Regions from separate parts of the Homo sapiens genome. Here region 2 is linked to region 1. A link means that fine-mapping ties the variant in region 1 to the expression of a gene that starts in the linked region. Tissue or cell type: subcutaneous fat. Region 1 holds a variant in brackets; the other region holds the start of a gene. All regions are shown on one strand. Distances are from middle to middle. Region 1 holds the start of SP6 (Sp6 transcription factor). Region 2 holds the start of MRPL10 (mitochondrial ribosomal protein L10).

The links. PIP is the estimated chance that this variant, and not a neighbour inherited with it, causes the effect.
Region 2: it holds the start of MRPL10, and the variant in region 1 is fine-mapped to the expression of MRPL10 in subcutaneous fat (GTEx, PIP 0.92).

What each region holds. Positions count from the first base shown.
Region 1 is chr17:47,849,543-47,855,055 of GRCh38, reverse strand. It overlaps SP6 (Sp6 transcription factor), which reads left to right and starts at 3,893. Exons shown (of 2, transcript NM_001258248.2): 1 at 3,893-4,137. RefSeq lists a silencer at 1,073-1,264. The variant A/T (reference allele first, on the strand shown) is at 2,310.
Region 2 is chr17:47,829,192-47,834,191 of GRCh38, reverse strand. It overlaps MRPL10 (mitochondrial ribosomal protein L10), which reads left to right and starts at 2,651. Exons shown (of 5, transcript NM_145255.4): 1 at 2,651-2,732. The coding sequence starts at 2,681. LRRC46 (leucine rich repeat containing 46) reads right to left here and starts at 2,522. Exons shown (of 8, transcript NM_033413.4): 1 at 2,193-2,522; 2 at 1,987-2,092. The coding sequence starts at 2,202. RefSeq lists silencers at 2,486-2,645, 2,886-2,945 and enhancers at 2,408-3,237, 3,238-4,069.

The DNA.
Region 1 (5,513 bases):
TGTTTGTTGAATGAAATAAAGGATGAATGAAAGAAAACTATTTGACCCCAGCTTTAGGCTCTATCTGGTTTTCTAAGAATCAGGAGAGTATGGTGGGGAGAGGAGGGGAAATAAGGAATATGTTGGCATCCAGGGTCATCAGCTTGCAGGCTTGGAAGTGCAGCCCGAAGGTGGGAGTGGGAAATGGAGGAGAGGAGTGAGTGAGAAGAGGAAAACAGGACCAGACTCTGGTCTGGTCCCAGCTCTGCTTCTAACTTGCTACTAACGTCCCTGTTTTGGGGTTTGGTTTCCCTACCAGTAAAACGAGGGCTTGGACGAGACAATTTGGGGCTAGACCAGCTTTGATATTCTCATAGTGCAATCTCTACAGGACAGTTGAAGTTTGGAAGGGATCACAAGTGTAGAGTCTGACTTGTCTCAGCAATTCAAGATGGGATCAGTTTGTCCATTAGACTCAAGATAGGAGATGGCTTTGATCTAGGGATTCATTTAAGAATGCTGTTTCCTCCACCTTCAGGCTCTAGGGGAGCCAGACTTCCAGGGTCATCAATTCTGCCATATTGAGGCCAGATGGACTAGTAGGCAGAATACAGGCTTTGGAACCTGAGAGATCTGAACTCAGTTTCTTCTTCTGTCTTTTAACAACTCTGTAATCTTGGGTAGATCATTTAACTTCTTTGATCTTTGGCTTCCTCATCTGTACAACGGGAATAATAATAATTACTTTGCTGCATGCCCATGAGAATTAGAGATATTTGTGTAAAGCATCTGGAACATAGTAGGTGCTCAGTAAATAAATGCCGTTTGTGATAAACACGCAGACTAATGAGATTTCTCCAGGTACAAAGTGGATCACTGACTATAGATGAAGCTTGAGAAGAAGAGGGGTGGCAGGAATGGGGGTTGGACACTTGCAGGGGAAATCTGACTATTTATTTGAGAGAATGAGGAAGAGCAGCAGAAATGGCCCAAGTCCAAGACAGATCTCAGTTTATACAGGAGATGTGATGGGCTGTGTTGTTCAATTTTGAGTAGCAATAAGTATATGGGCAATGGGCTGTGGTGACCTTGCTCATTAAGTTAACATCAGACCATGCGCCGTCATTCGGTGGGAAAACATTTAGCAAGTGGGAAACCAAAAGGGCTGGAAGCAGAGGACTGCAAGTAGAGGGGGACTGGAGGAAAGATAGTGCCAGTACCCTGAGTGAGCAGCAGAAACCTAGGCAGAGCAGGAAATCAGAATGGCTGGGAGTTTCCAGAGACAACTGCATTGTTGTTGAATTTCCTGCTGATGAGCTGCAGGCAGATGGAGGGTCTTTGCTGGTGGAATTCCAGATGGCTACAGGTCTGGTTGGATCGGGGCAGGGCTAAAGGGGGCCTAGAGTGAAAGTAGCAGGGAGTGTCTACCATCCTCGGGCTGAATCCCTGTTGCTTTCCAGGGAAAAGGCAGAAGGGGCCAGGAAGAGAAGGCAATCTGATGCCTATAAATGGGAGGGGAACTTGGTCCCCTACCCAGAGTCAGACCCCTGCACAGGCTTTAGCACCTTAGGAACAGTAGATGCAGCACCAGCAGGCAGCTTGGAGGAGGAGGCAGGAATGCCCAGAGGTCAAATCAGGAACCAGAGTCCCCCACTGGGGGCTCTGTTTTGGACCTGATGAGTGTCTACTCCATTCCAGAGGTAGCTGTGAACTAGGATACAAACCCAACTGGCCAGGATTTGTAGGCTGAATGGATGGAGACAAAGCTGCGTTGATGAAGAGGATTGATTGTCAAATTAGCCATGGCCACAAAGATCCAGAGCAGTTCCTGTGAATCCACATCCAGAGCCCCAAGTAACAAGAAGGCAAAAAGCAAACCCCGACTGATCAGAAATCTCAATCCCCCGATGTCAGGCGGCATCTCCGGCTTCCAAATACCTGTCACTTCTCTAGCTTGGTGGCTGCTTTTACAGCATTTCACCAAGGAAGAAACTGAGGCTTAGAGGCACCTGACCTGCCAGGGTCAGTTTAGCAAGTGCAGGGCTGGGGCTAGAATTTAAATCCGTCAACTTCTAGTCCACAGGTCTTTGTGCATACACCTTAATCCAACCAATATTTACCTGGAACTGACTTATTTAATAATTATAACAAGGATATCTTCCATTTACCCGGCGCTTACCAGGGGCCCCTTGGGCTAAGCATTTTTAGGCATATCAATTCCTTTAAGCCCCCAGGAGACCCTACCAATGTGTACCCAGGTTGTCCGGATGAGGGAAATGAGCCTTAGAAAAGAGGGAGATGCACAGATGAATCCGACGTCGATTCTGGAT[A/T]AGAACGTGTGCGTGTCTGAGGGGTACCATGCACATACGCATACACACATGGATTGATTTTCACCCCGCTTATGCACTCGGTTTAGCTATTTTTGAGTTACAGTTTGAGTGTGTCCCAAACGGGCATGCAGGACAGGTAAACCAATGGCGGGGGGGAGTAGGGGCTGTAGAGGCGAGATTAAATCAGCCTAAATTCAAGTATGAAATCGACTGTAAAGAGGAAAACGAAATTTTAAAAAGCCGACGGCAAAGCGCACAGAGGAGACGAATCTGAAAAATGAAAGAAATAGGGAAATTAATCTGCATTCCCCTGTGAAAAAAGGGGTCACATGGAGAGATCAACACTGCGGCATGGGAGTGAAGCATGGGGCCACCTCAGCGGCCAGGCAGAAGAATGCGTGGGTGGAGGACGGAACTTCCCTACCCACCGGTGCTTTGCGGGTCTCGGAAATGTCGACCCATCCAGATCTTGAGGGAAGTTTTTGTGAGCTCCGCGAGCGCGCTGAAATTTTACCAGAATATTGCACTGGGCATGTGAATTTTTCTCAAAGGAATCCAAGACCCCTCCCCAAAGTTAAGAACCTTGGGTTTAGTTATTCTGGTGAGAATTAGAAAGGAATGGTGGCAAGGGATAGCTCAATTCCTTCCAGAAGTGTCCCTTCCCAGGGCCATTCAGGCGCCTGCCCATTCTTCAGAACCGGGTGCTCGGGGGCGAGGGTGTGCGTAGGCTGAGCATTTCCCGAAGGACAGGAGGGCGAGGAGAGGCGAATTTGAGAGGTGGATTTCTTAGGCACTGGGGTTGCTACCTAAGGGGAGGGGCAGAGTGACAGCTGCTGGGACCTGGGACCAGAGTAGGGGGGAAGCAGAGACCGGTGGTGGGCAGAGGCTGGGAGAGGGGAGGAGAGGAGGTGGTCACCCAGAAAGGTCAGAGAGGGATACCCCGGAAGGGAGAGGGAAAAAAGGACGGGGAAGGGTGGTGGTGGAGAGAAGCGGCGCGGGGTGCGGGGGGTGAGGCAGGGCAGGGGACGGGGGTCGGGGGTCGGGGGAATGGCGAAGGAGGGCAGCCAAGACAAATTTCACACGGCCTAGGCCTAGAGGCGAACTGGAAACATACTTGGCGCTCAATCTTGTTTCCTTCTTTCCTCCCAGTTCCGGGGCAGGGCTGTCCGTTCAGAGAGGGTCAAGGGCCATCGAGGCAACCTAAGGGTTGCTGCCTAAGGGTGGCTCTGTCTCACCCCCAGGACCTGCCCCCTTATCCATTCCCCCTGGGTCTTAGTCCTGCGTCCTCTGCTAGACCGAGCTAGCTCCAGGGCAGTTTTCCACCCGGCGGGGCGGGTCTTAGAACCTGGGAATCACCCCACCCGGGCCCCTCTCCCTGGGAGTGGAGGGGACCAGGGAGGAGCGAGGGAGCGGGCGGCGCACGCCCTAGTTATCTTTCCTCCCCCACTCCCGCCCACCCCCTCCTCGCGGCCCTGGCTGGGCTCCGGTCCAGCCGAGCCCTCAAGGGTTAAAGGCGGCCGCAGGTGAGGTGGGCGGGGCCGCGAGTCCGGGGGAAAAAGCAGCGCTGGGGAGAGGATGAAGGCAGAGAGCGCGGGTGAGTCACGGGCGGAGCTGGCCTTGTTCGCTCGCTGGCTCCTGCCCGCCCTCCGTCCTCCGCCCTCTCGCCAGCGCTCACCTCCGCCGCCTGCCGCCTGCCGCCAGCCGCCGGGTCTGGCTCGCCCTGGGCTCCTGCCCCTTACCGCTGGAGAGCTCGCCGGCGCACAGGGCCTATGAGCGACCGTCAGTAGCGCACCAGCCAGCCGTGCCCGGAGCCCGCCGCAGCCTCGAGGTAGGAGCGCGGGTCGGGGTGGCCAGGGGTGAGCGCTACGGAGATTGTCTCGAAAAAACGCACTCCGAACGCGCCCCAGCCTCCTATGGCCTTGGGAGCGGGGTGGTCCTAAAGGATCTGAGAGGTTAGAACCCCGATGGAGGGAAAACTGGGCGGACGGGAGAGACTGGAGGGACCGAGGAGGCTGGAAACCGGGGCAACTGGAGCGACTGGGACAACCAGAGGACCGGGACATTGAGAACTGGGAGTACTAGCCGGTGATCCAGAGAGGCAGAGCCGAATGGGGCATAAGGGTGCACCGACTTGCCTTCCCACTTCGGGGAGCGAGAAGCCTGCGATGTACGCTGTGCTCTCTCCTTTCCTGAACTCTTTCTAGGCCTGGAAGTGAACCGGACACATACTTGGCACTCAATCCTGTTCCCTTCTTTCCTCTCAGCTCTGGGGCAGGTGGGTCAAGGACCATAGAGGCAACCTAAGGGTTGCCACCTAAGGGTGGCTCCATATCACCCCCAAGACCTGCCCCCTCCTCTATTCTCCTGGGTCTTAGTCTTGCATCTTCTGCTAGACTGAGCCAGCTCCAGGGCAGTTTTCCACCCAGTGGGACTGGTCTTAGAACCTGAGAATCACCCCGCTTTGGGTTTCTGAAATCTTGGTAGCAGGCCATTGCATCCCAGGCCTGGGCTCTCCAGCTCTCTGCCAGGAGAAGCCACTCTGGAGCCCAGATTATCCTAGCCTTCCCATCCTCCAGCCCCTGGGGCAGTTCCCAGGCACCAAAAGCTGTTAGGGTCCCTGGCTTCACAGCTCCCGCTCAGCCCCTTCTGTGCTGCCCCACCCCGGCCTGGGGCTCCTTTCCTGCAACTTCACCCTGTTTTCCTCTTGTGGTGAGGCAGCCGGAGCCTGAGTAGGTGCCCCCGTCCTCCTCTCCCTCCCTCTCCCAGGCTATCAGTGCCACCTCCCTGGTCCCAGAGGCAGGAGATGGTAGGGTCAGCTAAGCCCTGCTGTAGGAAGGAAACAATCCTGCCCTAAGTCACTGGTCTCCTCCCCCACCAGTAGAGAAGACCCAGGCACACAAACCTGCCCAGCTGAGGCACCAGGGCTTCCAGGCCTTAGGGAGAGGTGGTGAGAAAAGAGTGAACTTCAAGCCACAGATATGTGGTTGAGAAAGCGTTGGGGGTCTTTAGCGTTCTAAGGGTCTACAGAAAGATTGGTTTACAGAAAGTAACAGACTGAGAGTCCAGGAGTTAGGAGACCTGGTTTATTGAATGAATAAATGAACATCCTTGTCCAAGTCACTGTGCCAAGTCATTCAGTCTGCTTCCTTCTCTTCAAAATAAGAAGATTGGCCTGGAGCAGTGGTTCTCAACATTTGCTGCATA
Region 2 (5,000 bases), 21 kb after region 1:
TAAGGGCCCTCTGGGAAATTGGGGGATGGCAGCTTATGGTTTCTGGAGAGATTCAGAGGCAAGAGAAACCTTCCTCTGGCCAGCTTGGATGGTGGAGGCAGGGGTGGGACAGAGATGAGACACTGCAGAAAGATCCTTCCTCACCTTCCTTTTGAGTCGTTCATGGAGAAAAAAGCACTTGTTCCATCCACCCATTCATTCATTCCACAACATTGCTGAGTGCCTACTAGAGACAAATGACAGAGTCTCTGCCCACCACTAATAAAGAAGCAGGGCAGGCTGACCATGGTGGCTTACCCTGTACTCCCAGCACTTTGGGAGGCCGAGGCAGGAGGATCGCTCGAGCCCAGGAGGTCGAGGCTGCAGTGTGCCATGATTATGCCACTGCACTTCAGCCTGGGTGACAGAGCAAGACCCTATGTCATAAAAAAAAAAAAAAAAGAGGCTGGGCGAGGTGGCTCACTGTAATCCCAGCACTTTGGGAGGTCGAGGTGGGTGGATTGCCTGAGGTCAGGAGTTCAAGACCAGCCTGGCTAACATGGTGAAACCCCATCTCTACTAAAAATACAAAAAAAATTAGCCGGGTGTGGTGGCGCACACCTGTAGTCCCAGCTACTCGGGAGGCTGAGGCTGGAGAATCGCTTCAACTCAGGAGGCAGACGTTGCAGTGAGCCGAGATCACACCATTGCACTCCAGCCTGCGCAACAGAGTGAGACTCCGTCTCAAAAAAAAAAAAAAAAAATAGGAAGAAGGCCAAACATCTATGACAAGTGGATAACAGAGGCAAGTACAGGGGAAAGGAAGAAGGAGGAGGAAGAAGGGAAAGAAGGAGGAAGAGGAAGAAGAAAGAAAGAAAGAAAGAATAAGGCCAAACATCCCTGACAAGTGGATAACAGAAGCAAGTACAGGGGACAAAGGGAGTACATAGGCTGTGCACTAAATTCACAGTAGGAGGAATCAGGGAATGCTTCCTAGAGGAGGTGACAGATGAGTAGGCATTAGCCATGAAGGTGGGGGGATATGGGGAGAAGGCATTTCAAGCAGAAGGAATAGTACATGCTAATACAGCCCTTCCGAAACTCCAATATGCCCATGCAGATTCTAATTCAGTAGATCGGGTGGAGGGGCTGAGATGCTCCACTTCTAACAAGCCCCCTGTGATGCCAATGCTGCTGTCCTACCCCTGCACCCCCTCCCATCCACACATACTCTGAGTAGTAAGGTACTAAGGTGTGAGTACACAGTGTGGGAAATTGTACACTTGTGGAGAGTGGCCAGAAATAAGGCTGAAAAGCAGAAGTCAACTCATGCTTAGGCATTGGGATTTATTTGGGAGGAAGTTTCTATCAGTGAATGCCTGATTAGATTTGTTATTTAAAAGGATCACTTTGGCTACTCAGGAGGCTGAAGTGGGAGGATTGTTTGAGGAGTTCAAGACCAGTCTGGCCAACAGAGCAAGACCCCATCTCTAAAAAAGTAATTAAAAATACTTTACTTTTTGTTTGTTTTAGAAATAGGGTCTCACCCTGTTGCCCAGGCTGGCATGCAATGGCATGATCATAGCTTACTGCAGCCACAGGTACCTGGGTTCAAGTGATCCTCCTGTCTCAGCCACCTAGGACTACAGGTGTGCACCACCATGCTCAGCTAGTTTATTTTTATTTTTTAGAGATAGGATTCTGTCTCTATTGCCCAGGCTGGTCTCAAACTCCTGGGCTCAAGTGATCCTCCTGCCTCAGCCTCCCAAAGTGGTGGGTGTGTAGGAGAGAGGTGAACACGGCCTTATCTAAGACAGTTGAGTGAGGATGGTGAAAAAGAAATGGAATTATTTTGAAGAAGGGAAAATCAGCTGGGCATTACCACTGATTGAATGTGTGGAGTAAGGAGAGAAACAAAGATCAGTTGACAAATCAGTACACGTCAGGGACCTGGTCATCCTGAGTGTTTCAGCCTTCTAGCACCCCTTTTCTCCCCCATGCACTCACATCTTCTCTGACAGTTCCCCATCTTCAGGGAAAGTCAAGTTCCGCTTAGTGATAAGGGCTTCAGTGATGCAGACGCCCCCTTCCTCTGGACCCTGGGCTGACTTCCCTGTGAAAAGATGAGTCCAACTGTGACACTTCCTCACTCTTGGAGGCCTTACCCCGCTGTTTTCCAACTGCTCTACCCACCGTCCCACCTCCCTACTCACCTCCAGACATGATCTAAAATAAAAGGCTGCTGGTCTGAGGCGGGAGAGGAACGAAAAGAGAGGTCTTGGCGGCCCCTAAGGATGGCAGAACTCAGGATGGCAGGAGGAGAGAGAAACTCAGAGACTTAGGAGAGGAGGAAAGGGGGTTGATTCAGAGAAAATTGCTGGGGTGAGGTCGAAGAAAACAGTAAATTGATGTGAAGGGTCTGGAGTTTGAGGGGTGTGGAGGGGCTTTGCTGGCAGCAAGCTGGGGTGTTGTGGGCAGGAATGGTTGAGAAAGGAGCAGTTCCTAGGAAGCCGGAGTCGTTGCTAAGAGACTGGACGCCGAGTGGGGAGGTAAAGGCGGGCTCCGTTGGCCCGGCCTAGCGCATGCGTCTTACGGCTACAGCCGGCGGGTACGCCCACTGCTTCCGGCCCCGGGGTTCGCTACCCCACAATCCTTAGCTCTTTCCGTCTCCACTCGGCTTCCGTCCATTCTTCCGGTGGAGATGGCTGCGGCCGTGGCGGGGATGCTGCGAGGGGGTCTCCTGCCCCAGGCGGGTAAGGAGTGGCCCAGGTCCTCACGGCGTGTCTTGCGGCCGCTCTCTAGTCCTCATCTGCCCTCCTCTACTACTGATTCTTCCCATAATCTCTGACCCCAGCTAGATCGCTGGCCTCCTTACCCCGTCCAGTTCCTTGTGACTCGACTGGTAATCACAGCAACAACGTCCAGATGTTGTCTGTCTCCAGCGTTTCTTTTGCCTGGACCACTCCTCGCCCAGACCTTTGCATTATGTCTCCATCTTAATGTGTCAGTCTAAATGTCACCTCAGGTCTTCCCTTGACTCCTTAGCCCCGTCGCAATCTGTAATTTTGCATTTGTTTAGTTGCTTGTTTCCTCTATTAAACTCCGCAAGGGCAGAACCATGTTCATTCAGCATAGCCAGCAGGTGGCATGGTGCTGGATGTTAGTAAGCGTGCGGTAGATATTTGTTTAGTGAATGGATTTGAGCACTTAATATAGGCCAGGCACTGTGATAACTATTTTTATATGTGTTAGCTCATTTAAATCTTTTAAATCATTTAAATCTAAAGCACCCTGTGAGAAAGACATTCGCATCTCCTCTTTACAGACGCAGCAACTGAAGTTCAGACCAGTTGGGTGGCCAAGGTCACAGCTAGTAATTGGCGGAAGAGAGATTAAAATCCAGTTTCGGCTGGGCGCGGTGGCTCACGCTTGTAATCCCAGCACTTTGGGAGGCTGAGGCGGAGGGAACACCTGAGGTCAAGAATTTGAGACCAGCTTGGCCAACATGGCGAAACCCCAACTCTACTAAAAATACAAAAATGAGCCGGGTGTGGTGGCGCGTGCCTGTAGTCCCCGCTACTCAGGAGGCTGAGGCGTGAGAATCGCTTACACCCAGGAGGCAGAGGTTGCAGTGGGCCGAGATCGCATTGCTGCACTCCAGCCTGGGCAACAGAGCGAGACTCCATCTCAAAAAAAAAAAAAATCCAGTTTAATTTGATTCCAAAGCCTGCCTGCAGTCTTAACAGTTAGGTTTTGTGGCTGCTGGCAATAAGACCTCTTACCCCAGCAAATATCCATACTCTCTGACTGTTAGAGCCGCCTTCTATCTGGACCTTTTTCTGAGGTCACATCCCAGTCTTGGAAATGACTGAAAGTGGGAAGTTCTAGTCTTGGCCCTTGTGTTGAGGATTAAGTGGTCACTTTGTCTCAGGGCTTTTGAGTGCCTCCCTTGTTTTCTGTGGGGTGCTCTGTAGCATTATCTGTAAACAGGAAGAGAGGAGGAAAGAGAAACTTGTCTGAGAGCTGTGAGAATGGTGTAACATTTTTTTCTCCTCTTCAAATCATAGGACAGGGTGTCAGAGCAGCGGTTAGAGTGGTGGTTTTCAAACTTTAGCATGCGTCAGCATCACCAGGAGGGCTTGTTAGAACACTATTTGTGACCCGTCTTGGTAACATAGTGAAACCTGGTCTCTACAAAACAAAACAAACAAAAAACACTATTTGCTAGGCTCCACCCCAGAATTGCTGATTCAGTAGGTCTAGGCAGGGCCTGAGAATTTATGTTTATTTTTCTTTCTTTCTTTCTTTTTTTTTTTTTGAGACAGTCTTGCTCTGTCACCCAGGCCGGAGTGCCGGAGTGCAATGGCACAATCTCGGCTCACTGCAACCTCTGCCTCTTGGGTTCAAGCAATTCTCATGGCTCAGCCACCTGAGTAGCTGGGACTACAGGTGTGTGCCACCACGCCTGGCTAATTTTTGTAGTTTAGTTAGAGACGGGGTTTCACCATGTTGGCCAGGTTGGTCTTGAATTCCTGACCTCAAGTGAGCTGCCCACCTTGGCCTCCCAAAGTGTTGGGATTACAGGCGTGAGCCACCACACCCAGCAAAATTTCTAACAAGCTCTCAAATGATGCTGATGTTGCTGGTTGGGGTGGAGGTGGGGCATACCTTGAGAGCCACTAGATTAGACCAGGGGTTGGCGTATTATGGCAGGGCCAGTCACTGTGTTTTATAAAATTCTATTGGTACATAGTTTCTGCTGTCTCTTTAAATATTGTCTGTGGCTGCTTTTGGCAGAGTTGAGCATTAGAGACAGATTACATGGGCCCCAAACTTAAAATATTTACTGTTTGACCATTTTAAGAAAAAGTTTATTTAACCTTATCCCCTTTTTCTTTCTCTCTCTCTCTCTCTCTTTCCTTCCTTCCTTCCTTCCTTCTTTTTTTTTCTGAGACGGAGTCTTACTCTGTGCCCAGGCTAGAGTGCAGTGGCATGATCTCGGCTCACTGCAACCTCCACCT